Regions from separate parts of the Homo sapiens genome. Here regions 2, 3, 4, 5 and 6 are each linked to region 1. The links come from fine-mapping of genetic effects on gene expression. A gene starts in region 1. Each other region holds a variant in brackets. All regions are shown on one strand. Distances are between the middles of the regions. Region 1 holds the start of NIPAL2 (NIPA like domain containing 2). Region 2 overlaps NIPAL2 (NIPA like domain containing 2). Region 3 overlaps NIPAL2 (NIPA like domain containing 2). Region 4 overlaps NIPAL2-AS1 (NIPAL2 antisense RNA 1). Region 5 overlaps NIPAL2 (NIPA like domain containing 2). Region 6 overlaps ERICH5 (glutamate rich 5).

Evidence for each region. PIP is the estimated chance that this variant, and not a neighbour inherited with it, causes the effect. A credible set is the group of variants that fine-mapping cannot tell apart.
Region 2: its variant is the best candidate, but not a certain one, in a credible set for the expression of NIPAL2 in whole blood (TOPMed, PIP 0.64).
Region 3: its variant is the best candidate, but not a certain one, in a credible set for the expression of NIPAL2 in ovary (GTEx, PIP 0.78).
Region 4: its variant is the best candidate, but not a certain one, in a credible set for the expression of NIPAL2 in cerebral cortex (GTEx, PIP 0.62).
Region 5: its variant is the best candidate, but not a certain one, in a credible set for the expression of NIPAL2 in tibial nerve (GTEx, PIP 0.72).
Region 6: its variant is the best candidate, but not a certain one, in a credible set for the expression of NIPAL2 in iPS cells (iPSCORE, PIP 0.75).

The regions. Positions count from the first base shown.
Region 1 is chr8:98,292,047-98,296,997 of GRCh38, reverse strand. NIPAL2 (NIPA like domain containing 2) reads left to right here and starts at 2,763. Exons shown (of 11, transcript NM_001321635.2): 1 at 2,763-2,995. The coding sequence starts at 2,861. The region is part of intron 5 of LOC105375659 (a long non-coding RNA gene); the gene reads right to left. RefSeq lists a silencer at 2,524-3,243.
Region 2 is chr8:98,196,454-98,200,453 of GRCh38, reverse strand. All of the region lies in intron 8 of NIPAL2 (NIPA like domain containing 2), which reads left to right. All of the region lies in intron 2 of NIPAL2-AS1 (NIPAL2 antisense RNA 1), which reads right to left. Among named protein-coding and RNA genes, the nearest start is that of NIPAL2-AS1, 22 kb to the right of the region's middle. The variant C/G (reference allele first, on the strand shown) is at 1,882.
Region 3 is chr8:98,189,424-98,194,547 of GRCh38, reverse strand. It overlaps NIPAL2 (NIPA like domain containing 2), which reads left to right. Exons shown (of 11, transcript NM_001321635.2): 11 at 1,458-4,722. The coding sequence ends at 1,570. The region is part of intron 2 of NIPAL2-AS1 (NIPAL2 antisense RNA 1); the gene reads right to left. It also overlaps the pseudogene RNU6-914P. Among named protein-coding and RNA genes, the nearest start is that of NIPAL2-AS1, 16 kb to the right of the region's middle. The variant A/G (reference allele first, on the strand shown) is at 1,665.
Region 4 is chr8:98,179,162-98,184,285 of GRCh38, reverse strand. NIPAL2-AS1 (NIPAL2 antisense RNA 1) reads right to left here. Exons shown (of 3, transcript XR_928444.3): 2 at 4,242-4,464. Among named protein-coding and RNA genes, the nearest start is that of NIPAL2-AS1, 5.3 kb to the right of the region's middle. The variant ACCTGCC/C (reference allele first, on the strand shown) is at 2,945.
Region 5 is chr8:98,230,727-98,234,726 of GRCh38, reverse strand. All of the region lies in intron 4 of NIPAL2 (NIPA like domain containing 2), which reads left to right. The region is part of intron 2 of NIPAL2-AS1 (NIPAL2 antisense RNA 1); the gene reads right to left. Among named protein-coding and RNA genes, the nearest start is that of NIPAL2-AS1, 56 kb to the right of the region's middle. The variant A/G (reference allele first, on the strand shown) is at 1,894.
Region 6 is chr8:98,071,248-98,076,371 of GRCh38, reverse strand. The region is part of intron 1 of ERICH5 (glutamate rich 5); the gene reads right to left. Among named protein-coding and RNA genes, the nearest start is that of ERICH5, 9.2 kb to the right of the region's middle. The variant G/AG (reference allele first, on the strand shown) is at 2,451.

The DNA.
Region 1 (4,951 bases):
AAATCAAGCTTTTAAAGAATTAAACTTAGTTTTATTCAGAAGTCTCACTGAATTGTTTGAGGCCAGGAGTTCTAGACCAGCCTGGGAAACATAATGAGACCCCATCTCTACAAAAAATTAAAAAAAAAAAAAAATTGTCTGGGCGTGGTGACTCACGCCTGTAATCCCAGCACTTTGGGAGGCTGAGGTGGGTGGATCATGAGGTCAGGAGATCGAGACCATCCTGGCTAACACGATGAAACCCAGACTCTACTAAAAATACAAAAAATTAGCTGGGCGTGGTGGCGGGCATCTGTAGTCCCAGCTACTCAGGAGGCTGAGGCAGGAGAATGGCGTGAACTCGGGAGGCGGAGCTTGCAGTGAGCCGAGATTGTGCCACTGCACTCCAGCCTGGGTGACAGAGCAAGACTCTGTCTCAAAAAAAAAAAAAGTGTGGACTTCATTATGGCAATAGGGAGGCTTCAAGGCATTTTAAACCAGAAAGTAACACAATCCATTTAGTATTTTGCTTGTTAGCAACTGTACAACTACTTACAATCTGGCTGATAGAAAAATACTAGAGTGGTTGTACCAGGGTTGACTGGTTCCCCTCCCCCATAACCCCATGGCATTCCCACTCATCCTGGTTGGTAGAGCTTACCTCTCACTAGGTTGGAAATACCCAAGAATCACTTTCCCAGCCTCCCTTGCTGGTAGAACATGGGCATGTGACCCAGTCCCAGCCAATGGGATCTGAGGTGAAAGGATGCCAGGAGGATTCTGGAAAAGGCTTTCCTCCCTCAATGGACAAGACCAGTACCTCAGGGATAGCAGAGCAGAAAGGTGGAAGTGACGACATAATAGAACCACATAGAGACACATTCCTCTGGAGATAGCAGATAATTATTGTTTAAGCCACTTTTATTTGGATACTCTGTTACTTGCACCCTAAAGCATGTGAAGAGAAAGAAGCATTAATGAAGTCACCAATATCAATGAATGTGATGTTATAGAAAACTTATCAGACAAGGCATGGCAGCTCACACCTGTAATCCCACCACTTTGGGAGGCCGAGGTGGGACAACTGTTTGAGGCCAGGAGTTCTAGACCAGCCTAGGAAAAATTGCGAGACCCTGTCCCTACAAAAAAATAGAAAAATATTAGCCAGGGCCAGGTGTGGTGGCTCACACCTGTAATCCCAGCACTTTGGGAGGCCAAGACAGGGGGATCACTGGAGGTTAGGAGCTTGAGGCCAGCCTGACCAACACCGTGAAACCCTGTCTCTACTAAAAATACAAAAATTAGCCGGGCTTGGTGGTGTGCACGTGTAGTCCCAGCTACTCAGGAGGCTGAGGCAGGAGCATTGTTTGAACCCAGGAGGCAGAGGTTGCAGTGAGCTGAGATTGTGCCACTGCACTGCAGCCTGGGCAAGAGAGAGAGACTCTATCTAAAAAAAAAAAAAATTAGCTGGGCATGGTGGCATGCACCTGTATGTAGTCCCAGGTGGGAGGATCACTTGGGCCCAGGAATATGAGGCTAAAGTGAGTCAAGATCACACCACTGCACTCCAGCCTGGGCAACAGAGCAAGACCCTGTCTCAAAAAATAAAATAAAATGTAATATAACAAATAGAGACCTTTTTCCTTCAGATATTTATTTGAAGTAAATCAGCCTCTTAAAATTGGGAATAGTTACCTACAATTGTTAGCTGTTCACTGAACATCTCGAGTGCTTAAGCAAGAAACTACACAATTTCTGAGACGACATGTCTTGTTTTTTCTGTATGTGAAATGACTTTTTCTCACTCTTTTCTCTCATTTGCACATTTCCCCTAAGAAACACTGAAAACTGTCCCTGCTCCCTTCTAGGCAGCAATTCTCTTTTCTTGAAGGTCTCTCTTTCATGAACTCATGGAAGTCAAAGCACATTATCTAAGAAAAACCTCAGCATTGTGTAAACAAAAGAAGGCAACTATCAGCCTTCAGGCAACAGTATAGAATCATGGTTTTTTTAAAGTGAGAAATACCCTACAGATCATTTGTGGTCACACATTAGAATTTGAATACAGGTAAAACCAGAACATCTCGTTAGAGTTCTTAAGATTAATAACAACATTTATCTTTCATCCTAAATTCATATATACAGTAGCTGGCAACTTTTCAGCAACTCCACCTGATCCCATCTGAAGCAAACCCAATCCAGTCATCGCACACTGGGGTCCTATGGCTACCACATTCCTCATTCAAGGAATATTTACTAAGGATCTATCAAGCACTGGCACTGAGATTCAATCGCTCGGATCTTTTTTTCTCATATTGCTTACAATATTTCTGGGAACTCATGACTTTTTCATATGCAATCAATTTTTAAAATATCGGTGAGAAACACTACATATGTGATAGAGGACTGGAATTGCCAGGTAGAGATGGGAGATGATAGCTGCTTTGGGTTAGTCAGTGTCTCCTCCTCTTCCATTGACTTGGACAAATGTTTACAACGGAGATGATCTGATTCTGGCCCCGACAGGCGCGGGGACCCGTTGCGGACGGCCGCGGGGATTGCCCCCTTGGGCAGTGCGGCCCCGAGGATGCAGACACTGGCCCAGCGGAAGGAGGGCGCGGTGCGAGCTGGACGGCCCCGGGAGGCCGCAGACCGCCGGGCTCCCCGAGGACACCTCGCACCGGAGGAGGAGAGGAGGCAGCGCCCGGCCAGGCTGGGAGCACCTACGGCCGCGCGGGGGCGGGAGCCAGGTGGCCTCGGCGCGCCCGCCTCGCCCGGGCACCGAGCAGGAAGTGGCTGCGGCGCGGCCTCCTCGCGGTGCAACAGGGCGGGGAGGCGGCCGCAGCCCGAGCCGGAGCCCGAGCGCCGGGAGCGAGACCTCATGGCAGCGGTGGCGCCCGCGGGCCCCGGGGACTCCGCCTCGGCCGCCCTGGACGAGCTGTCACTGAATTTCACGTACGGGGCACCAGGCGCCGGCAACGGCTCCCTCTCGGGCGACTGGTACCGCAGGAACCAGGTAAGGGCCGCCCCGCAGCCACCGCAGCCCGGTGGGGACGCGGCCAGGGCGGCTGGCTCCGGGCGCCTCTGCGCCTCGGCCGCTTTCCTGCCAGCTCTCAGGAAGACACCCGGCCTCTCCGAGTGGGAAGAGGTGACATGCAATGTTTCCCGCATTGACCTAAGTCCGCCTCATCCGGAAGCGCGGGGGTCCGCCCAGTCTTCCTCTCCCGGGCACCCGGCACTGGGAGTGGGCGCCCAGGTCTTCGGCCTTGACCTCAGCCACCCGTTCCTGGGACCTCCGGGTCCCGATCCCGCCTCCCCAGCCTGCGTCCGCCCTCTTCTCCCGGAAGGAATCTAGGAGTGTGGGGGCAATTCACTCATTTTCACCCCAGGATCCTTTTACAGTTAAAAGAAAAGAAAAAAGTGACACCCTGTTATCAGAAGCAGAAAACTCATTAAGGGCAGCCTAATGTCACCTCGCGCAGATGCCCTGCGTGTGTCCCTGGTATCTCAACACAGCTCTTCCATTTCCGTGCGAGGAACACATTTTCTCAGGTTGCATTTGCAGGACTCTCATTCTTTCCCACCGGCCCTTTGGGAAAACTTTGTTAACTTAAACAACGCCAGTTTACACTGGAAATATACATTTAACAAAATCAAAGGGACTTGGAGCCGCCCATTTATTTTTGGCTTGGTTTAAGATGAGGAAGTGTTCTGGCCAGCCCTTCCTCTAGCAGCGTTCATATTGCAACTAAGTTTTATCACGGTGGATTCCAGGCTTCCTCCTGTTTTCATTAAATGTGTTACTTTGTTCTTGTTCTTTAACAAAACCATGGATACTTTTATTTTTGCAACAATATAATCAGAAAATATTTGTTGCTGTTGTCCTAAATCGGAGAGTTTAACCAATTATCAAAGATCTGGATTCCTTTTATGCCTGAAGTGTTCTAAATATTAATTTCTGAATGCAGAAGAGAATATATTTGTATAAAGAATAAGTAAGATAAATAAGCATGTTCACTTTATTAGTTTTCAAGAGGGGAGAGTATTGCTTTAAGTCATTTCATCATAAAAGATATAAAAATAGGAAAAATGAGGGTACTCAGAGCCTCTTGATCAATGTTTGTAATCCAACCCCATTTCTCCTTTCTTCTACCCACAGGAATTACAAAGAAAAGCATCATTTTTATGGGAACTTGAATCTATCTATTATATTATTCTTTTATTAGAAGTATTCCCAATATAAGTTTAAGAATGAGTTATCTATCCCCTCTTGATTAAAAAAAAAAAAAAAATAGAGGGTTAGCAGATGTGATCATCCAAAAACAGGACATTGTTTTCACAGTGGAAACCTCTGTAGTCATTAGTTTTCTTTGACATTTCCTGGAATTCTTGATTGTCTTGGCTGTCTGATATCCAAACACAGATTATCATGTGACATAAATGTGAGGCAAATAAATACTGTTTGCAAGGCTTAATTTGCCTTTGACAGTGTGTATTTGTACAGGTTAGAAAGGATGTATCCAGAATGTGCTAATTGAAATTACTGAGCTGACATCTAAACTTTGCTGGTTTGAGATAAAACTGTATCAAGTTTTGCCATTATTGTGCAAATTTAGGCCCTCTTATAAGATGGTGGTATTTTATCTTTTCAGTAATTGCATTTGTGTTAAGCAAAAGTAAAAATTAATTTTTAAAAAGTTTACTCGAGAAGCATTTTATTGAGTGCCTCTGGTGTTGTCCAGGCCAGTAAAAATAAAATTGAGTCTAATTTTTCTTGTCTTTTTTGACACTGAATAGAAATGGCTGAAAATGGGTGTGGATACAGAAAAACAAAGTGTGAGATATAAATGTGTCACTCCCACAATCAAAATGAATGTTGGTTGCTAACTAGCCACAGCTTAATGATGCTTATTTGCTTGCCTCCATTGGTTTTATCACAACTAAAATATTTGCACAGTGTGTGTTGGCTGAT
Region 2 (4,000 bases), 96 kb after region 1:
ACATGCCACAACATAGATGAACCTTGAGAACATTATGGTAAGTGAAATAAGCCAGTCACAAAAATAAAAATATTCTATGATTCCACTTATATGCGATATCTAGAGTAGTGAGATTTATGGAAACAAAAGTAGAATGAGGGCTGCGGGGAGGAGGAAATGAGTTGTATAATGGGAATAGAATTTTAGTTTTGCAAGATGAAAAAGTTCTGGAAATTGGTTGCAAAACAGTATGAACCTACTTATCACTACTGAACTATACACTGAAAACAAAAGATCGAGATGGTAAATTTTATGTTATGTATATTTTACTACAACGTTTCTAAATTGGGAAAAAATAGCCAGGTGTGGCAGTGCACACCTTTAGTCCCAGCTACTCAGGAGGCTGAGGCGGTAGGATTGTTTGACCTAGAAGTTCAAGGTTACAGTAAGCTATAATCACGCCACTACTCTCCAGCCTGGGTGACGGAGCAGGACCTTATCTCTAAATAAATAAAAGTTAAAAATAAATAAATAAAGATTTTCTTGGAGGACCAAGAAAATCTCTGGAAACAGAAATTCCACTTCTAAAAAACCCCACAAAAATTCATAAAATACCTGGGAAAATGTGTTGATGAGGCATACCGCATTTTATTGTGCTCTGCAGATATTGCATTTTTTACAAATTGAAGGTTTGTGATAATCCTGCATCGAACAAGTCTGTTGGAATCATTTTTCCAACAGCATGTCCTCACTTCATATCTCTGTGTCACGTTTTAGTAATTCTTGCATTATTTCAAGTTTGTTATTATTATATCTGTTACGGTGATCTGTGATCAGTGATCTTTAATGCTACTACCATAATTGTTTTGAGACACCACAAACTGCACCTGTGTAAGACTGCCAACTTATCAATAAATGTATGTGTTCTGATGCTCCACTGACCAGCTGTTCCCACATCTCTCTCCTTCCCCTTGGGCCTCCTTATTCCCTGAGACACAATAATATTGAAATCTGACTATATTATTAAATATAATAACCCTACAATGGCCTGTAACTGTTCAGATGAAAGGAAGCATCCCACAATCCTTCCCTTAAGTCAAAAGCTAGAAACGATTAAGCTTAGTGAGGAAGGCATGTCAAAAGCCAAGATAGGCTGAAAGGTAGACCTTCTGCACCAAACATTTAGCCAAGTTGTGAATGCAAAAGAAAAAAGTTTTTGGGCCGGGTGCAGTGTCTCATGTCTGTAATCCCAGCACTTTGGGAGGCTGAGGCGGGCGGATCACCTGAGGTTGGGAGTTCGAGACCAGCCTGACCAACACAGAGAAACCCTGTCTCTACTAAAAATACAAAATTAGCCGGGCATGGTGGCACATGACTGTAATCGCAGCTACTTGGGAAGCTGAGGCAGGAGAATTGCTTGAACCCAGGAGGCGGAGGTTGCAGTGAGCCAAGATGGCACCATTGCACTCCAGCCTGGGCAACAAGAGTGAAACTCTGTCTCAAAAAAAAAAAAAAGAAAAGAAAAAGAAAAAGAAAAAAACTTTTTGAAGGAAATTTAACATGCTACTCCAGTGATCACATGAATGATAAGAAAGTAAAGCAACCTTATCACTGATATAAAGGAAGTTTGAGTGGTCTGGACAGATCAAACCAGTCACAACATTCCCTTAAGCCAACACCTAAACCAGAGCAAGGCCGTAACTCTTTTCATTCTATGAAGGCTAAGAGAGGTGAAGAAATGACAGAAGAAAAGTTTGAAGCTATCAGAGGTTGGTTGATGAGGTTTAAGGAAAGAAGCCATCCTCATATCATAAATACAAGATGAAGCAGCAAGTGCTGATGTAAAAGCTGCAGCAAGTTGTCTGGAACATCTAGCTAAGATCATTGATGAAGGTGGCTACA[C/G]TAAAATACAGATTTTCAATGTAGACAAAACCACCTTCTATTAGAAGAAGACACCATCTAGGACTTTCATGGCTAAAGAGGAGAAGTAAATGTCTGATTTCAAAGCTTCAAAGGACAGGCTGACTCTCTTGTGAGGAATAATGCAGCTGGGCACTTTAATTTGAAGCCAATGCTTATTAACCATTCTGAAAACCATAGGGCCCTTAAGAATTATGCTAAATCTACTCTGCCTGCACTCTTTAAATGAAACAACTAAGCCTGGATAACAACACATCTGTTTATGGCATGGGTTACTGAATATTTTAAACCCACTGTTGAGACCTACTGACCAGGAAAAAGAGTCCTTTCAAAATATTACTGCTTATTGTCAATGAACCTGATCACCCAAGAGCTCTTGTGGAGATGTACAAAGAGATGAATGTTGTTTTCATGCCTGCTAACACAACATTCATTCTGCAGCCCATGGATCAATGAGTAATTTTGACTTTCAAGTCTTATTATTTAAGAAATACATTTTGTAAGGCTGTAGCTGTCATAGATAATGATTCTGCCGATTGATCTTAGCAAAGTAAATTGAAAACTTTCTGATTTTCTTGATGTCATTAAGAACTTTTGTGATTCATGGGAGGAGGCTAAAATATGCACATTAACAGGAGTTTGGAAGAAGTCTATTCTAACCCTCCTGGATGATTTTGAAAGGTTCAAGACTTCAGAGAAGGCAGTAACTGCAGATGTGATGGAAATAGGAAAAGAACTAGAATTAGAAGTGGAGCCTGAAGATGTGACTGAACTGCTACAACTTCATAATCAAACTTTAATGGATGAGGAGTTGCTTTTTATAAAAGAGCAAACAAAGTGGTTTCTTAAAGTGGAAACTACTCTTGGTGAAGATGCTAGGAACATTGTTGAAATGAAAACAAAGGATTTAGAATATTTCAGTAACTTAGTTGATAAAGCAGCAGCTGTGTTCGAGAAGATTAAGTAGAGATTTTGAAAGAATTTCTACTGCAAGTCAAATGCTGTCAAACAGTATGGCATGCTACAAAGAAATCTTTCATGAAAGAGTTAATCGATGTGGCAAACTTCATTATTGTCTTATCTTAAGAAGTTGCCACAGCCACCCCAACCTTCAGCAACCACCACCCTGATCAATCAACAACCATCAACACTGAGGAAAGTCCCTACAACTAGCAAAAAGATAGGACTCACTGCAAGCTCAGATGATCATTAGCATTTTTAGCAATAAAGTATTTTAATTAAGGTATGTACTTTTTTTAGACATAATGCTATTGCACATTTGATAAACTACAGTACAGTGTAAACATAACTTTTATGTACACTGGGAAACCAAAAATTTAGTGTGACTTGCTTTATTGAGAGATTAGCTTTATTGTGATGTGGTCTGGAACCAAACCCACATATCTCCAAGATACACCTGTACGAAGAAGTACATTGCTGCTTTACTGAAGAAAAAAATTGAAAAAAAAAAAAGAGAAAAAAGATGTAGAACCAACTTGAAATGCCCTTAAAGAAATGAATATTATGGTATATCGTTTAAAATAACATGAAAACATTAAAATGATTATAAGGAAGTATGTAATAACCTGGAGTGTGCTTCAGAAAGTTTCATTCATTCAACAAATATTCATTAGAACTGGACATGGCTTCTTCCTGTAAGAAGTTCATTCCCTAGGTAAGGAGATAAGGTGAAGAATGAGAAAGCTCCTTGAGGATAGGTCTCTGTCTTGTCATTTCTCCAAGACCTAGAGCAGTGGCTGACGCACAGCAGACGTTCAATAAATATTGGTTGGCTGGCTAACAAGGATAACACCACACACATAAAAAATTAATTCCAGGCAACATATAACTTAAAGATATCTTAACAAAAACTCTATGAAGGCTTTGGAACTTTACAGAAGAAATCATTGAGACCAAGACGGAGAGAAGCAAAGTTCATCAAAGTAGATGATGCATCCTTGTTTACCTTTGGAAGACCAGAAGAAGATGAGAGGGGGCTTGGCAGTGGGAAGTAGAGCTAAGGTAGCACTTCAGCTGCTAGAGTGTGCTTTGGCACTTGAGTCGCCATGTGGCCAGACCAACAGATCACTGGGCATCTCCA
Region 3 (5,124 bases), 100 kb after region 1:
GTTTTGCACAGAACTGGGGATATAAAAGAACTGACCATGTTTCCTCGATTTGGGTGATTTGGAGGATTTCCTTTTTGGGTTTCCTTAAATTGGAAAAGGGTAGAGAAAAGAGTAGCAATGACTACCAGCAGCAGACCCCTGCCACTTTGAGAGCCTTGAAGGAACATCCAAGGACAAAGGGTAGGCAGCTAAGGAGCATGTCTTGGGGGAAGCCTGAGGTGGCCTGTGCACTGTGGCTCAGGACAGTCACCAAAACATGAGTAGTTTCTTCCCCCTTCCTCACCCCGCCTACCCAGAGAGCAAACACTCTTTCCCGTTCTCACTCTCACTGAGAAATAACTCGCCTAGTCATGTAGACAACAAAAGCCAAGTCCAGGACAAAGGAAACTGTCTGCTGTGTCACCTCTTCCCCTGTCCACCCGCCCTCAGCACTCTCCAGCCTTACTGGGGATGTAGGGGGACCTATAGGTTTCCAGGCAGGAGTGGAGACATTCTCACAGCTTTCTCCACCATTCTGTTAGCACCATGCCTGTGAAGCAAAAACTAGGGAAGCCTCATCCCTAAGACTGAGAAATATGGCCCCATGCAATGAATTCTGTGTTCTCTTTGCCATTCGAGCCATCTTATCTGCTGGGAGCAGTCAATGAAAGAATTGGCATCAGTGGCAAAGGTGCTTGTGATAGAAGCCTTATATGGTTAGAGGTTCTTTGATAGGAAATAAAGTTTGACTTTTTTTTTTTTTTTTGAGATGGAGTCTTGCTCTGTTGCCCAGGCTGGAGTGCAGTGGCACAATCTCAGCTTACTGCAGCCTCCCCCTCCCGGGTTCAAGTGATTCTCGTGTCTCAGCCTCCCGAGTAGGCACCACCATGCCCGGCTAATTTTTGTATTTTTAGCAGAGGTGGGTTTTCACCATGTTGGCCAGGCTGGTCTCGAATTCCTGACCTCAAATGATTCGCCTGCCTCGGCCTCCCAATGTGCTGGGATGATAGGTGTGAGCCACTGCACCGAGCCTGATTATTTTTAACTCTATTTTTTATTTCACAAAGCTCAGTGCATAGGCTCCGTAGTAGCTTTAGAAGTCACTATCAAAGGCTATTTTTCTATGTTGTTATATGCATTCGACGTGGAAAAGAAGACACAACCCCAGAGAGAAAGGCTTGGAGGTGAGTGAATGCTTCATGTGAATCTCCAGACTAAACCCACCTGATTTCCATGGCCAGCATGTAGATCCTGTGGGGTGGGGATAGTGGCTCTGACACAGACAATTCGCTATCACATAGCTACAGACATGGCGTTTCAAGGGCCTTTTCTTCCTTGATATTCATCTCTTCTCTTTAGAGAGTGCCCACATAGTATAAAAGAGAGGTGATAAAATGTGGCCTAGATTGAGGAGAAATTATTAAGACTTATTTTTCTGTAAGACCTCAAAAGATTCTCTATGATTATTATCTCCACAGGGAAACAAATGTTGGACAAAATACAACCAGATTCACATAGCTTATCCTATGGAACTTTGCCTGATGGAAGTGACTCAACAAAGAGCCAAAGTGGAGAGAAGAAAGAGGTCTAAATGCTGAGAAGGATGGCTGTTGGCCTGTTATTCGATACCACCTTTTTAAAAAATTGCACATGTTCAATTTGTGTCAGCAGCTCTTTTATAAGCT[A/G]ACATGTGCTAGCATTCATTTCAGTCCTTTCCCCCACCTCAGCGTCTATGGACAATCGGGGACTTCCTAAGCTCTGACAGTCTAATATTTCCATGGAATGTGATTTGGAGTGTTCCCCACACCCTGGACCTCTCCCTAGTGATTATCTAGCCAGCTACACCTTACTCAGAGCCCGGCTGCTCTAGCAGGAATGTTGCACAGAAACATACATTTGCGGTTTGGCCACAGGTCGCATAGGTGGCTTCTCCCACGGGTAGTGTCAGTTGCTTCACTTTAAAAAGTCACTTCAGCCCCACAACCTCACTCCCAAAAGAAAGGTTTGAGAGCGCTCATTTTTTTTCTAAGACACCTTTTATAAGCCTCCCTATAAAAATCTCACCTTTCAAGTACTAAGTTAGAATTGCAAGTCATCTTTTCTGAAAACTAATGCTATCAAAGTCCTCCTTTGAAAATTAAGGGTCTCTTTAAAATTAGAATTTATAAATGGCATTCAGTGATAGTGTACACCAAAATTAAAAGACCTTGACTGGTGGGCTTTTTACGTGTAAGGAAGAGGAAGTTTAAGAAGTAGGACTCTGCTTGTTTCAGTAGCCCATGTACTAAAATAGGAACAATGCAGAGATTAGCACAGCCCCTGCACAAGGCTGACACATAAATTCATGAAGCGTTAGAGACAAAAAGTAGGACTAATGTTTGTTTATTTTTTAATAAAAATCTAGAATGGTGATGTTTTCTTCAGCTGTATGATTCTATCATACTTGAAACTGAAGAAAAATTTAATATCCTATGTCTTTTTTATAGATCTTATAATTTATCAAGTGGATTTATATGTCTTATTCTCCATATAAGTCTAAAAAATCACATTTAAATTCTTAGTGATAGTTTCACTACACATCATTTCTTCCCAAAGTCATTACCTCAAGCTTTGTAAATTCTTCTAGATAAAAGGAGAGTTGTGATTAGAGAACTGAATTTCAGCCATTTAAACCTGTAGACATAGAAAACAACCCAGTGGTCAAACCTGAGCTTCAAGAGGAAGCCCAAGTCCTCCTGTTTCCTGAATGGCTTTTCCACTCCAATTCATCACATATCTGCTAAGACACATTTGCAGGTAGAATCCATAATAATATCTGTTATTTATGATCTACCTAATATTTAAAGGAGAAGAAAAGAAGTAGCCTTCGTTGCAGCCAACATCCAACAATAAGTCCCACCCTTAATGACATTTCAAAGCCTTCAGATCACTTCTGACATGTCTGTCCAATATCATTCCAATCAATAGTCTTGCATTTAAATAGGTTGTTTAACTCGGTGGTATTGAGACTGTAACCTTAATGGCTCAGGTCTTTTAGCTTTGTTCTTTGTCATAATCTGCACTCCTGGCCAGACTGACCAAACCTGGCTGCAAAGGAAAGAGATTTGAATTGATCACCAATGTATGAAAAATACAGAACCCATGTCTGGCTCCTAAACTCCTGGTAATAATTCCCGCCATCGTAGCAAGTGTCCCATGCATTCAGATAAAGCAGTCATAATTTATGGTGTATTTTACCGAATTGGTCCAGCATATTGGTCCTACAAGGCTCAGCCAAGAAATGTATCTGGTGCCTTAAACTACAGATTTCTGGTGACTCTTAAAACTGGTTTACAAAGATTGAGAAAACAATTAGATTGAAGAGTTTTGCTTCAAGTAGACCTGCATTCATAGCTAGAGTGCATGAGATTTTCAGCACTGTAGAATTTCACACAGGCACAAGCATAACACCAGTACTTTAGCAGCCGCCAACAGTTGCATCTATTAAACGTTTTGAGAAATGACATTGACTTATGCACATTTAAGCAATCAACAATGTTTTAGAAGTCCAGGTAACATATAAAATATATTCAGACCTAGTTTTACTTTCCATATTGTTGCTCCAAAGTAAGGTAAATAGGAGTTTTAGTTGTACTGGCCTGTAAGATTTTTTAAATTACACAGTGCATGACAACAACTAAAGCCAACTCAGTCCTTCTCTTGGCATTGTGAGTTGAGGACCTTTAGCCAACTGTTAGCTCATCTGACTATCTGTCTAGACCAAGGGTCGGCAAAGTTTTCAGTAAAGACCCACAGAGTACATATTTTGGAGTTTGTGTTGTCTGTACCAACAGACAGACATGGTGTCTGTCCCAACTACCCAACTCTGCCATTGTAGCACTAAAGCAGCCATAGACAAGATGTAAACAGAAGAGCATGGCTGTGTTCCAGTAAAACTTTATTTACAGGCCAGGCATGGTGGCTCATGCCTGTAATCCCAGCACTCTGGGAGGCTGAGGCTGACAGATCATCTGAGGTTAGGAGTTTGGGACCAGCCTGGTCAACATAGTGAAACCCCATCTCTACTAAAAGTACAAAAATTAGCCAGGCATGACGGTGGGTGCCTGGAGTCCCAGCTACCTGGGAGGCTGAGGCAGGAGAATCACTTGAACCCGGGAGGTGGAGGTTGCAGTGAGCCGAGATCATGCCATTGCACTCCAGCCTGGGCGACAGAGTAAGACTGTCTCAAAAACAAACAAACAAACAAACAAACAAAAACAAGTGGCCAGTCTGTGAGCTATAGTTCCCAACACCTGGTCTAGACTCTTCTGCCCTTGCTCTGCAGCTTCTTTCCTGTTGATTGGGCATTCAGGGAAGGAGTTTAAAAAGTGACACTCATGGCTCATGACAAATGAGATACTTTGGGAGTGTGGAAACATGGCTTGATATTTGCCTTCAGATATTTTTGCTTATATAAGTTCTAAATGGAAGTGATAAGTTCATTCTTAGGGTCCAAGTTGAAAGGCAGTGGTTCTTTTGTGAACACCACTAACTACATTCGAAAAGCCTCTCCAATTCCACATTCCAAGTCTATAACAGCTTTGGAAATGAGTAACAATGACCTCTCATGTAGTAGATTAAAGCAGAGGCCTTTGCCATATGATTGTTTTTTGGCTTAAATGTTTGCTTGCCCTGTAACTGTAATACTTTGGTTACCAGAATCACTTGAAAACAAATACAATAAAAAAATTTCTCAAGCAGTGACCCAGAATGTATTCTTCCCCCTCTTCAATACCCCACACACTCCTAGAGATTCTGTTCTGTGGCAATGTAAGAAAGAGAAAGGCAGATTTCATAGATGAGTACAATTTCAGTGCTATGAAAGAGTAATGGTGGTAATGTGTAAGTTTGGCTCCAAAGGACGCAGGTGTAATGGTGGACATAACTCAAAGAGATAGAAATGTCGAGCCAAGTTCCCTAAGCCAAGCACCCTCTTTGTGCTCCTGTTTCCAAGCACGCAACTCATCCAGGAATGGTGAGTGTACACACTCAGCCATGCTGAAGGCTGCCTCAGTGCTTGCCAATTTAACAGTGATATGGTGGACATAAATATAGCAGTTACTGACATGAACCTTCCCAACACTCTTCCAGACTGCTTTACTTAAA
Region 4 (5,124 bases), 110 kb after region 1:
AAAAATAGCTTCCCGGCGTTTCCTGTTTACTCTGCTCTGCGGGCTTCCCACGGCCTGGGGGCTTCACTGGACGTCTGCACAGAAAGCCCCTCTCCAAAGAACACCGCAAGTGACGATTTGCTTTCTTCTTCTGTGTTTCTAACTCTCTTCCTTGTGTTCCACAGAAGTTTAGTTTGGGGGTCTGTTGGGTTAACTCCCAAGTCTCCTTTTTCTAGCCCTTTTTAGAGGGAGACAAGGTTGCAGGGTGTTTCTCTGCTTTCCACGGCCCTGTTCTCTCACAAAGTAGAGCCAATCATGTCCGGCCTGCTGGGCCTCAGAAGGAAGATGTAGGAGAAAGAGTAGGTGACACAAATATAAAAGGACTGTGGAGAGAGGGGCCCTGGCCAGGCACAGTGGCTCATGCCTGTAATCCCAGCACTTTGGGAGGCCAAGGTAGGAGGATCACTTGAGCCAAGGAGTTCCAGACCAGCCTGGGCAACACGGGGAGACCCCGTTTGTGCAAAAAAAAAAAAAAAAAAAATTAATTAGCCAGGTATGGTGGCACATGTGTGCCTGTGGTCCCAGCTGCTTAGGAGGCTGAGGTGGGAGGATCCCTTAAGCCTGGGAGGTCGAGGCTGCAGAGAGCTATGATCTCGCCACTGCACTCCAGCCTGGGCAACAAAGCAAGACCCTGTCTCAAAAAACAAAACACAACAAAAAAAGGGGGTTTAGGCCTGGCACAAAGATTTCACATCCTCCTTCAGAATAATGTTCAGGAGAGAACAGAATTGACAGCAAAGACACAGGTGACAAGACAGGAAAAGCTCATCCAACAGAAGAGCAGAGGTGTCCCAGACATCGAGCCTAACGGAGCTGTGTGTGACTCTAAGCTTTTGCTTAAAACCACGGAGACATCAAACATGTTCGGGGAGAGTTCCGTCTGAGGAGCAAGCAACTCCTGGGTGGGCCAGGAGTGACGGGTCTGTGCTGCAAATTGGTGTTTGGCCCCTGCACACAGCCCACGTGCTGAACATGTTTTTTCGGTCCAAAAACAATGGGAGCAGCCTCACTTTCCCTACTGATTTTTGCACCACAACAATAAAGTTAATAATGGAAAAAACATATCCCATGGCCAGGAACACTCTGAGCGAGCACAGCAGAGTGTTGGATCTACCATCTATCAACAGAAACTGCTGAGAGCAAACCAAAGCCTGTTAACTGATTTTTATGAATGATTGAAAGAGCAAAGCAGATTTATTTGATTTCCATCATATAAAAATTGACAGTTACATAAATATATCTCTAAAACTGTCAGGATGAAAACCATCCCATTCTTGACAGGAAGTGAAGTCACAAAAAAAGCTAAACTGACACTGCTATCGGGGGCCTCTTGTGGATTGAATTGGGGCCCCCACCCAAAATAAACATTAAAGTCCTAACCCCCACTACCTCAGAATGTGACATTATTTGGAAATAGAGTCTTTACAGAGGTAAGCAAGTTAAAAATTAGGCCATTAGGGACTGAGCCCTGACCAGTTCAGCTGGTGTCCATAGAAAAAGGGGAAACATGCTCACAGAGACACACTGAGTGAAGCCAAGGCGAAGACACAGTGAGACACCATCAACAAGCCCAAGGGACAACTGTGACCACCTGAAGCCAGCAGAGAGGCATGAAACAGAATCTTCTTCACAGACCTCAAAAGGAACCAACCCTACCAACACCTTGATTTTGGACATCTAGGCTCCAGACTGTGAGACAATAAATTTCTGTTAAGTCCCCCAGTTGATGGTACTTTACTACAGCGGATGTAGCAAACTCATACAAGGACTTTCATCTCCTTTGCTCCCAGAGGCTGACGCTCTGCTCTGTTCGGAGAATCTGCCATGGTGCAAACCTTGCTGGGAAGCAGAGCCACCCCGCACCTCACTATAAAAGCTGAAAGCCAAGATTTCCCTCTCCCCCACCCCTGGCAGATGATGCTCTGTTCCAGGGCACTGGGGCTAGAGCACTGGGCAGTTTAGAATGGATTCTTTCGTTGCCTGCAGTGGTGGCTCCTAACCTCCAGTTGTAATGATGCCAGGATGCCACCCAGCATTTGCCAGAAACCTGACCTTGGCCGTACATCTGGCCATTTGGTTTCACTTGGTTCCTTCCCCTTTTCCAAGCCCAATCCTGCAGACTTCCCATGGATTCTGTAAGCACCTCAGCAAACGAGGACATCAGTGCAGATCAATAAAAAGCCGAGCATCCCACACAGTTTGTCTGGCATTTTCCACCCCCTTGACCATGGCCTGTGAGACATCCTAATCTCAGTGCAAACAAAGGCAAACTCCCCACATTTACCCTCCATCTTTTCTCCAGTCGCCACCAAACTACCTCTGTTCACGGCACCCCTGTGCTCCCCTGACCACCATGAGATAGGTCCCATACAACACACGCTTCCCCTTTTTCCCAGGCTCCCAGCAGCCACCCTTATGTCAGGTCCTCCCACCTGAAACACCACGCCAGCCCACACACTGGTCTGAGCCATTGTCTGCATCTCAGATTCCCATGCATGCTGGTGGGGGCAGTGAGTCCTGGAGAGAGAGAAAGATCTGATCCTACCCCCAGCATGCATTTCCCCTGCTACTGCTCCTGGCCTCACCATCTGCTCACCTGCACTCCACTGGAGTCCAGCCCTCCTTCAAAGCCCATCTCTAATACGGATAAAGAGTTTTATAATTTTTCTTCTTGAAACAAGATCTGGCCCTGTCACCCAGGCTGGAGTACGGTGTCACAATCTCGGCTCACTCCAGCCTCAACCTCCTGGGCTCAACCGATCCTCCCGCTTCAGCCTCCCAAGCAGCTGAGACCACAGGTGAAGGCCACCGTGTTCTGCTAATCTTAGTATTTTTTTGTAGAGATGGGGTTTTGCCATGTTTCCCAGGCTGGTCTCAAACTCTTGGGCTCAAGCAATCCACCTGC[ACCTGCC/C]TTGGCCTCCCAAGGTGCTGGGATTACAGGTGTGAGCTACTATGCCTGGCCAGTTTTATGATCCTTATCAGCCAGAGGTGCTCCTTCCCACCTTCAAATCCCCTTTACGTTCTTGGATGCAACTCAGTGTCTTCCACGTTGCGTTACAGTCATCTACATGCTCATCTGGTTCCTGCTATTCAATTGCCACTATCTATGGGACAGGATTTGCCCTGGACTCCTCTCCAGCTCCACTACCACCACCGTCACTTCTCAGTGATGATCACTCACAGCCCCCTAGCTGATCATTCAGTAGAAAAGCCCCAGTCAAAAGACTAGACGTGATCCAACCTCCATGACCTCCCTGCCCAGAAGGCCTCCTCCTTGCTCCATCCTTCCCTACTCTCCAGCTTCACTGCTTCCTCCCTGTTCACTGAACACACCGGGCACACTCCTGCCTCAGGGCCTTTGCACAGGGTAAGTCCCTCAGCTTAAGTTTTTGCCCAAATGTCACCTTCTTGAGGAGGTCAGCCCTGACCTCCTTATTTATAATCTTGCAACCCACCCCACCTCCACCCAGTACCCTTAGTCCTGTTGCCCTGCTTTCTTTCTCTCTGTAGCAAAGATCACCTCCTAGAATAATGAATAATTTTTTATTATGTTTATTGATCATTGTCTGCCTCCCCATCCCCACCTGCCACAAAGTGAGCCCCTCAAGAACAGGAATCTTGATCTGTTATGCTCGCTGATGTATCCTGGGTGCCTGGTACGTGGGGGAGACCCAATAAATATTTGTTACATAAACAAATCTCTGAATTCTGCATACTCCTGACTACGACAGTCACTAGGTTCCCAAATCATGCTACTTTTCTTTTTAAGCCTAGCTGCCTGTTTGCTTGGCTGCTCTTCCCTGCGCTGCCATGGAAACCAACAGCCTAGGGACAGGTTGCTTTTCATGAAGTCAGGCAACGTGCATCACACCCCGCAGAACACACGGACCTGCACCATGTCCTCCACAGCCAGGGGACGGGATGCTCCGCCCAGTCAGCTGGACGTGTAGGGGTGCAAATGGCCCTGGGGCCAGCACCACCCCAGCTCAGGCAGTCTCGGGTCCCCATGCAGTGAGCAGTGGAGGCTTCCCAGGAGGACTCACCCCTGACTGATGGATGCCCACACAGACCACATTCTGTTCTCAGGAGAGGCTCAAGTCAGAATGTTCCCATTGCCACCCACAGGCACTTTCTTTCTATCCCCAATAATAGCAGGTATTTATGGGGCACCTACTATGGACGAGGCACTTTGCATATATTACCTCCAATCCTGGTGGCACTGAAAATTCAGTTATTATGACTTTCACACTTGAGGGAACTGAGGCTCAGGGAGACTAATCAGCTTTGCCTTGGGTCACAGCAAGTCAGTGAAGGAGGTAGATTGGAATCCAGGCACCGAAATGTGTAGCCTCTTCCCACGCCATGAGCTCCCACCTGCGCTGCTGTCTGCAGGCTCCTCTGCTGTGATTGTCTCAGACCCTGTGCCTGAAGAAGGGCGGATAGAGAGCAAGTGGTGGGGGCAGAAATCACTGTAGAAACCCAGCGTGTACACATGACATGCATGCACACACACACACACATGCACACACACAGATCAATGACATGGCCCCAGCAACATTGTAACGCCAGAGTAGGTTTCTGAAGGAGGGGGAGCTCTAAGCTCTCTCTGGAGGCCTTTAAAAAATAACAACAAATAAAAGATAATTCCATCTCATTGGAATGACGTAGGTGTGGTCGTGTCTAAAAGCAGAGATCAGCTGACCCCAACAGTCAGCTTTATGACTATGATAAACCATTACAGAGCAGGCGGACTAACTACTTGGAGCATTGCTAAATCTGTTTTTAATAATGTCACCATCCCAGGACCAAACCCTGCCCTGTCGCTGCAATAAAGGTTCATCATTGCTGGAGAAAGAGCACTGGGTCACAGAGGGCAGAGGCGGGGAAGAGGAGACAGCCTGTTTGTTCTCAAGCATGGGGCTTCATGAGTCATAGGCTCGCTCAGGCGGTGGGGGAAGAGCTTGAAGATTTATCTCAGCTGAGGTCTGAAGGATAAAGATGAAAACAATAGCAAGGAGACCATGTCAGAGCAGCAAGGACAACAGCCCTGCTTGAAAACTGCTCAGCAAAGGGACATGGGGGCTT
Region 5 (4,000 bases), 62 kb after region 1:
AAAAAAAAAAAAATAGACAGGTGTGGTGTCATGCACTTGTAGTCCCAGCTACTTGGGAGGCTGAGGCAGGAGGATCACCTGAGCCTGGGAGGACGAGGCTGCAGTGAACCAAGATTGCACCACTGCACTCCAGCCTGGGCAACCGGAGTGAGACTCTATCTCAAAAAGAAAAAAAAATGACCAATACCTGAGTTTTATAAACTAAAAATTAGGTCCTAGATATATTATTTTTCTCATTTATCAAGTGGCTTAAGGGAACTTTAAATCCTTTTATCTAATATCTGTCACCTTTTATAGTTAATGATTGAATAATGATCAAATTAATCTAAGGTATTTAATGAGAGAATGCAGATATAAAGGGGGATTTGCTGACTAATCTTGAATATTAGTGATAAATGATAATTAAGACAGAATCCCCGTCCACAAGTAATTTATAGTCCATGATAATATAGATTCATAAATAGGTTTTTTTTTAAGTAGAAAAGAATATGTGCCATAATGTCATGAGTCTTTAGTTTAGAAGTGTTTCTGAATCAGCATTGCTGACATTTGGGGCCAGATCATTCTTCATTGTAGGGGCTGCCCTGTGCACTGTAGGATCATTAAGATCCCTCCTGACCTTTACCCACTAGATCCCTCTAACATCCTCCCACTCAGTTATGACAACCAAAAATGTCTCCAAACATTCCAAAATGTCTCCTAGGGGACAAAATTACTCAGGTTTAGCCCTGTTCTTCTCTAGCTGAGAAGATCAGAGAGAATTTTTTACAGCAGAGATAACATTTGAATTGGTTCTGACAGCTGGGCAGGACAGGCATAGGCTACATCCAATAATTTGGAGGAGGACATACAGAGGGAATAACATGAGAAATGTTAACAAAGATACAAAAAGGTAAAGTAAGTTTCTATTTCATACTGCACCTTAACTCCTGCCTGTAAGGCTTAGGAAAAAATAAATGCAAGTTGTAACTATGGAAAGGAAGAAATAAAAATATCAATATGTACAGTTTATTTTCTTATATACTTAGAGAACGCATGATCAACCAAACATTACCAGAAGCAATAAACCAGCTCTCAACATTAAAGGATCTAAATTAAACTGACTCTCATAACTTCAGATCTGGATTCAACTCTGGCTATCAACTGTACAGGCAACCTAGTATTACTTAACTTCTCTAAGCCTCACTTTTCTGGCAAATATGTAAGACAGTTTTGAAGATCACATTAAATAATTCATATATAAGTACTTTGAAAAATGCAAAGCTTTGTCAATATAATTGTCATAATTTCTATTACCACCTTCATTGCTGAGAGATTCCTAAGAGGTAATACTAAAAATGTAATATAAGGAAGGGGAAAACACACACACACACACACACACACACATCAAGAAAACAAACTAACAAAATAAAACCTTTAATTAATTATTTGGGATTCTTTGCTAATTCCTCACCTTTTTTTTTTCTTTTGAGATGGAGTCTCGCTCTGTTGCCCAGGCTGGAGTGTAGTAGCGTGATCTCAGCTTACTGCAACCTCCACCTCCTAGGTTCAAGCAATTCTCCTGCCTCAGCCTCCCAAGTAGCTGGGATTACAGGCATACACCACCACGCCCAGCTAAATTTTGTATTTTTAGTAGAGACAGGGCTTCACCATGTTGTCTAGGCTTGTCTCTAACTCCTGAGCTCATGATCCACGCACCTCTGCCTCCCAAAGTGCTGGGATTACAGGCATGAGCTATCACGCCTGGCCTAATTCCTCATCTTTTAAAAGCAGCTAAAATTTATTAAACATTTACTCTTGCCAAATACTATGTTAAGTGTTTTGCATGGATTATCTCATTTGAATGTAGGAACAATCCATTTACAGAAGCAAAATCTGATACTTAGCAAGGTT[A/G]AGTAACCTGCCCAAGGTCATATAACTAGTACATGATAGACCAGTATCCTAACAATGGCAATCTGGTATAGCTATAGTATAAAGTTAGGGTGAGTCTTTAGTATCAGAAAGCTATTATGTAACCTTATATAACCTTTCTCTTTTTTCTTTTTTAAGACCACACTAGAGGAACCTTATGTAACCTTTGCCAAGTTATATAAATAAGCTTTTTAAGCCTCAATTTTCTAATCTTTAAAATAAAGATAATATTACATACCTCACAGGATTAAATGAGTTCATATATGTAAAACTCTAACAACAGGGCCTATCACATAATGTGTTCAATAATATTAGCTATAATTGTCATTATTACTACTACCACCATCACCCACCACTGTACTCTACTAATTAATCAGAGGAAACCTAGATTAGGACATTTTTGCAAACTTTAGTAATCCAGGTAACCTTTCCCACAACTCTGATTGGGTGCTCTGTTTTGTTTTTTCCTACCTAACTTAATGCTTTTGGAGTAGGGCTATGTAACTCATAAGTCACATTTATTTCATACCATAATTAAACGTGACCAATTTTTGCCTTTAATCTAGTGTCATAGGAATGAAAAAAGGATTTAGTCACCTATTCTATACCCTTGCCTCCAACAAGCGATATCCTAAGATTATCATCATCTGAGATGTCGTAACCCACTTCATATTTACGGAAGTCCAAGGAAGGACTTTTCCCCAACCCCTCTCAGAAATGTGTCAAGTCACATGTATTTTCTTTGAGCCTTTGTTGCCGTTGCCTTGAGAAAATGTAGCTTTTTCTGCTAAAAGCAAAAAAAAAATTTTTTAAAAAAAGCATCTTTTTCTTTATAGGGACTAAAACCAAACAGGTAAAAGAGTAGTTAGTGGTGTTTTTTAAAGATTAACATATGAACATGCTAAAAATTAAATTATCAAAATGTGTAAAGGAAAATCATTTATTTTTCTCTGTTTCAAGCAAATGAAAGTTTGTTTTTCATGATGGAACAAATGAAGATTTGGGGACCATGTGGAAACAAGCTGAACTAATTTATTGCCAAATGTTACTCTGTGACTGTGAAGCTTTTCATCACTAGTCTCAAAAAATGACCTCACAAAGCTATTTCTGAAAGCAATCGCCAGGTTATTAAGTCAATGACAGGTTTGGACTGTGCTCTGATTCTTAGTGGATTAATTATTTTAATGATTATTTTTCCTTTTAAAAAAAGCACCAGATTTCTCTCCCCTTCAATCGGCTGAAAACTATAGGATTTTCTTCTCTCTTCTCCCTTAGACGTCAAAAGCACCAAATCATCTGTGAGATCCTAGTTGATTTAAGACCAGATAGAGTCATCATGGAAATAAAAATGACAGTCAGCCTAAATAGAATATCAGGAGATTAACAGTGAGAGGAGGGCCATTTCCTTCCTTCCATTTCCCACACCAGAAGTCAGCTTGATTTGGAGCCAATGTCTAGAATACTAAACTAGCTAAATGACCCATCGTCTCTGGTTGAGAAGACAGATTGACTGTTTTGGTTGCAGAGCTGCCTCAAGAATGGGAGCCTTTCTGATGGAAGGTCTGGGACTACTTGAATTCACCACATCACCGAGATTTTCAATCGAGGGGTCCTTCAAGGTTTAGCTACCATAAGCCTGAGGAATCCAGAGAGACTGTACTTATGGGAGGGTATTTCCAAATGGTTTGATGTTAAGGAGTCCAATTTATTCTTTGACTCCTGTTATCCCACAAAAGCAATAACTGGACTCCCACTGACCAGGAGACATACTGCAGGGACCAAAGGGATTAGACTGCAATCTTTCCCTTGCAGTCAGGTTAGCTGAATAAGAAAAACTCTTAAGGCTCCTAAAAGTCAGGTCAGACCAGATTCCAGAAGTCAGCAAATGGGCACTTAATATTAAGTAGCATCCAGCTGGAAAGTGGACAAAATTCAAGATTTCAGGTTTTAGTTCGGGGAGAGAGGAGCTTGGGAACCAGGATATCTGTTGTGGAAGAACTGTGCAAGTACATCTTAGATTCCAAGACTCCGCCAGCTAGAGGTGCCAGTGAACAGAAGCTTCAGAAGGAGCCTGATTCTGGGGTGTTTT
Region 6 (5,124 bases), 220 kb after region 1:
TGAAATTAAGGTTAATACGGCTGGGCACGGTGGCTCATGCCTGTAATCCCAGCACTTTGGGAGGCCAAGGTGGGCGAATCACTTGAGGTCAGGAGTTCGAGACCAGCCTGGCCAACATAGTGAAATCCCGTCTGTACAAAAAATACAAAAATTATCTGAGCATGGTGGCGGGCGCCTGAAATCCCAGCTACTCAGGAGGCTGAGGCAGGAGAATCGCTTGAACTCAGGAGGCAGAAGCTGCAGTGAGCTGAGATCGCGCTATTGCACTCCAGCCTGGGTGACAGAGAGAGAGAGACTCCATCTCACAAAAAGCGTAAATGCTTGCTCTGCTTTGCACTCTAAGAGGGGTGGACAGACCCACCTCACCAATGTGATGTGGCTGCTTGCCAGGTTCGGTCACTGTGTCTATGTTTCACTCTGTCTGAGTACAGAGTACAAAGGCCCATGGTCAAAAGCAGGTGTCTGTGGCCAGGCACGGTGGCTCACATCTGTAATCCAAGCACTTTGGATGGGTGAATAACTTGAGCCCAGGAGACAAGCCTGGGCAACATAGCAACACCCTGTCTCAAAAAAAAAAAAAAAAAAAGGCAGGTGTGCTTGAGATGGGAGTTAGCAGTTAGCAACTGTGTGGCTGGGATGGAAGACTGAAATTTTACAACAGAGCAGTCCTATTCACACCAGACATTTGGGCCTCAAGCGTGGGGGCTCTGTGCACCCTGAAAGCCACTGGCACCAGAGAGAGCACTGGGGAGACCCAGGAGGAGAAAGATCTAAGGTCTTTCCGCTGACTGATTGCTGCCACCACTCTCTCAGGTTAGGCACCTACATGCAATTCAGATGACTTCAGTTCCATGCTTAGGAAACATAATAGATCACATTAAGCAAAGGGGGGATTTTCTTTTCCAGAATGAAAAGCCACTTGTAACAAAGCACAGGTTGTCCACTCACAACCTGATACACCTTTGAGGCCACCATTAAGCCTCCTGGTGTAAACATTTGAAAACTGAATTGAACGAGCTTCTTCATAAAGCAAAGCATAAGAAAAAGCTGCAACTTAGGAAGTAGGTTTGACCAAGAATCATGAACATAATTAAACTGGAAGATTTCAATAAGATTAGAACAGAAAATAAAAATCTGCCTTTTCGCCCATCATCAAACTTCAGAGTCTCCAGGAGGAATATTAGAGAAGTCTAGGGGGCAGTGAGAAGTCAAGTCAACCACATGTACCTTTGAGATGATGTGATGAGAAGGGCAGTTTATCTCTGTGGTCTTCCTCCCAAAAACCCATAACTCCAGTGTCATCATGAGAAAAATACCAGACAAATTCCAGTTGAGGAATCTTCCACAAAATACCTAACCAGTGCTCCTCAAAACTGTCAGAGTCATCAAAAACAAGGACAATCTGAGAAACTCTTAGCCAAGGGGAGCTGAAGGAGGCATGATGACTACATGCAATGTGGGATTCTGGATGGGACGCTGGAAGTGAAACAGGACATTAGAGAAAAACTAAGAACATCTGACTAAAGCATGGACTTTAGTTAGTAATCATGTAACAGATTTGGTTCATTAATTGTGACAAACATATCCTACTAACATAAGATGTTAAGAGGAAAGTGAGTGTGCAGTATATGAGAACTCTCTGTACCAACTTCATAATTTTTCTGTAAATCTAAAACTATTCTAAAATAAAATTTATTTTTAAAAATTATAGCAGGGAGGCCAAGGCAGGAGGATCACTTGAGGCCAGCAGTTTGAGACCAGCCTGGGTAACATAGTGAGACCTTGTCTTTACAAAAAATAAAAATATTAGCTGGGTATGGTGGTGCACAGCTGTAGTCTCAGCTACTCGGGAGGCAGAGGCAGGAGGATCACTTGAATCCAGGAAGTTGAGGCTGTACTCAGCCTGGGTGACAGAGTGAGACCCTGTCTCAAAAAAAAAAAAAAAGTAAATTAAAATGAAAAATAAAAAAATTATAGAAGCAAAAATATAAGAGCAAGTAATCTAGCTAAATAAGAAGACCTGGTAGCCTTAGAAAAACTGTCTCATAAACTGTAGCCATTCGCATACCACTTTTATGATTTTTGAATATTTCTTTACCATTTGTGCTATTATTGACTTAATATTTTTGTCACCATTTTTCTTTAAATAAATTTACTTTTTTAAAAAGTGAGGAAGGCCAGGTGAGGTGGCTCACACCTATAATCCCAGCACTTTGGGAGGCTGAGGCAGGCGGATACCTTGAGTCCAGCAATTAGGGACGAGGTTGGGCAACATGGCAAAATGTCAACTCTCCAAAAAACAAAAAAAAATTAGCCAGGTGTGGTGGTGCATGCCTATAGTCCCAGCTGCTGGGCTAAGGTGGGAGGTCGAGGCTTCAGTGAGTTGTGATAGCGCCACTGCATTCCAGCCTGGGTGACAGAGTGAGACCCTGTCTCTAAAAAAAAAAAAA[G/AG]AAAAAGAGAGAAAAATTTAAAAAGTGAGGAAATCAACAAACTCAGGGATCTAGAACTTGATTTTAAACAAACACAAAAAGCTGGGTGCAGTGGCTCACACCTGTAATCCCAACACTTTGGGAGGCCGAGGTGGGTGGATCACCTGAGGTCAGGAGTTCGAGGCCAGCCTGACCAACATGGTAAAACCCTGTCTCTACTAAATATACAAAAATTAGCCGGGCATGGTGGCACCCGTCTGTAATCCCAGCTACTCCGGACGGTGATGCAGGAGAATCACTTGAACCCGGGAGAAGGAGGTTGCAGTAAGCCAAGATCACAGCACTGCACTCCAGCCTGGGCGACACAGCAAAACTCTGCCTCAAAAAAAAAAAAATTATATATATATATATATATATATATATATACATATATATATATATATATATATATATATACATATATATATATATATATATATATACATATATATATATATATATATATATATAGAGAGAGAGAGAGAGAGAGAGAGAGAGAGGGTCTCACTATGTTGGTTAGGCTGGTCTTGAACTCCTGGCCTAAAGAGCAAGCTTCCTGCCTCAGTCTCCCAAAGTGCTGGGATTACAGGCATGAGTCACCGTTCCTGGCCCAGACTATATTCTCAGTGCATTATATGTATTAACTTATTTATTCCTCAACTCTATGAAGTACTATTGTTGATCCTATTTTGTAGATGAAGCAGCATGGAGAGGGTCAGTACCTGGCTCAAAGTCACACAACTAATAACTGATCCTGAACGAGGATTTGAACCCAGTCTAACTCCAGGCCCACATTCTTAATCAGCACTCTATACTGTCTTTCAGTTGAAATGAAATGTTGAACTTCATACCCATACATTAATGCAAGGTGTACAGGTAACCAGAACCTCCCATAACATCTAGTCTACAGGTGCTATACCTTTAGATTAAGTACTAAGTAAAGGAAATTAGCAAAAAAGAAACTCTGTGGTTTATATCAGAGTCTTGAGAAAATGGGAAGAGGCAGAAACAGGCACACACACAAAAATCACCTTACAGAAAAAAAATAAAAGACAAAAGGTTCATTATAATTATCATTAACAGTGAGGAAAAGAAATAAGCAAAGAGAATGTTTTAGGGAGAACATTTCAACAAAAGTCCTTGCTGGGGTGGCTGAAGGCAGATGTTATCTCTAAGCAAAAGAAACTACTAGTGAAAATGACAGAGCAGCTGGAATGCACATCCCAACACTTCCTTTTTAATTTTAATTTTAATTTAATTTTTTTTTAGATGGAGTCTCACTCTGTCACCCAGGCTGCAGTGCAGTGGCACAACCTCGGTTCACTGCAACCTCTACCTCCCAGGTTCAAGTGATTTTCCCGCCTCAGCCTCCTGAGTAGCTGGGACAACAAGCGTGTGCCACCATGCCTAGCTAATTTATTTTGTATTTTTAGTAGAGATGGGGTTTCACCATGTTGGCCAAGCTGGTCTCCAACTCCTGACCTCAGGTGATCCTCCTGCCTTGGCCTCCCAAAGTGCTGTGCTCACAGGCATGAGCCACTGCACCCGGCCACCAACACTTCCTGATCCTTTTCAATGTCATGACATACACAGAATATGATATTTGTGCATCACACTTCAACAAATGGAGGAAGCTGCTTCCAGATGGCTCAGGCTGTCAGGATCCCACCTGGCTGCCCTAAAGGCTAGGAGAAATGCTGGCATGGCTATAAACCATTCTCACAGGCTGGGAAACTCTGATATAAACAACTTAGGTAGTACTAAATCATGCACTCCAGCATTGACTGTCTTATTTCACCCACCTTCATAAGGTTTAATTCCTAGGGGGTTTTAGCTGCTAAAAACCATGTGGGGCTGGGCACGGTAGTTCATGCCTGTAATCCCAGCACTTTGGGAGGCTGACTGAGGTATTAGGGTTGCTTGAAGCCTGGAGTTTGAGACCAGCCTGGGCAGCATAGTGAGAACCAGTCTCTACCAAAAAAAAAAAATAAAATAAAACTTAAAAAATAAAATAAAAACAATGTGGATTGTTGTTTTTTTCAATATTCATCCTTAAAGGACAAAGCTCAGACACCCTTGATTATATACAATGAATGAACTTGAGAGCCCGAAGGCAATTCCCAAGAAGTGGTTCAAGGACTGTGAAAAACAGCAATAGCCCTGAGATGGGTGAAGAAGCTTCTGAAGTCATTACAGGACTTTCAAGACATAAACACACCTGGAGAGCTATAGTCTGGCACTTTGCTTTAAAAAAAAATTACAGTGGGGCACAGTGGGTCATGCCTGTAATCCCAGCACCTTAGGAGGCTGAGGTGGAAGGATAATTTGGGTCCAGGAGTCCAAGCTGCCGTGAGCTATGATTGCACCATTGCACTCCAGCCTCGGCAACAGAGCAAGACCCTGTCTCTAAAAAAGAAAAAAAAATTACCTAGTACTACTCACACACACTCTAGGATTAGAAGCCTCATCAAGTTTTTATCAGCTTTGGTGAGACTTTCATTAACCCCCACACGTATTCAGGGTTTCTTTCAACTTGATATTGTAAAACATTAACATAGAAGTGAAACTGTACACATGAGCTGGTTGTGGGGCCACCTTACAGAAGCATGATTTTTTCTTTTTTTTTGAGAGGGAGTTTTGCTCTTGTCACCCAAGC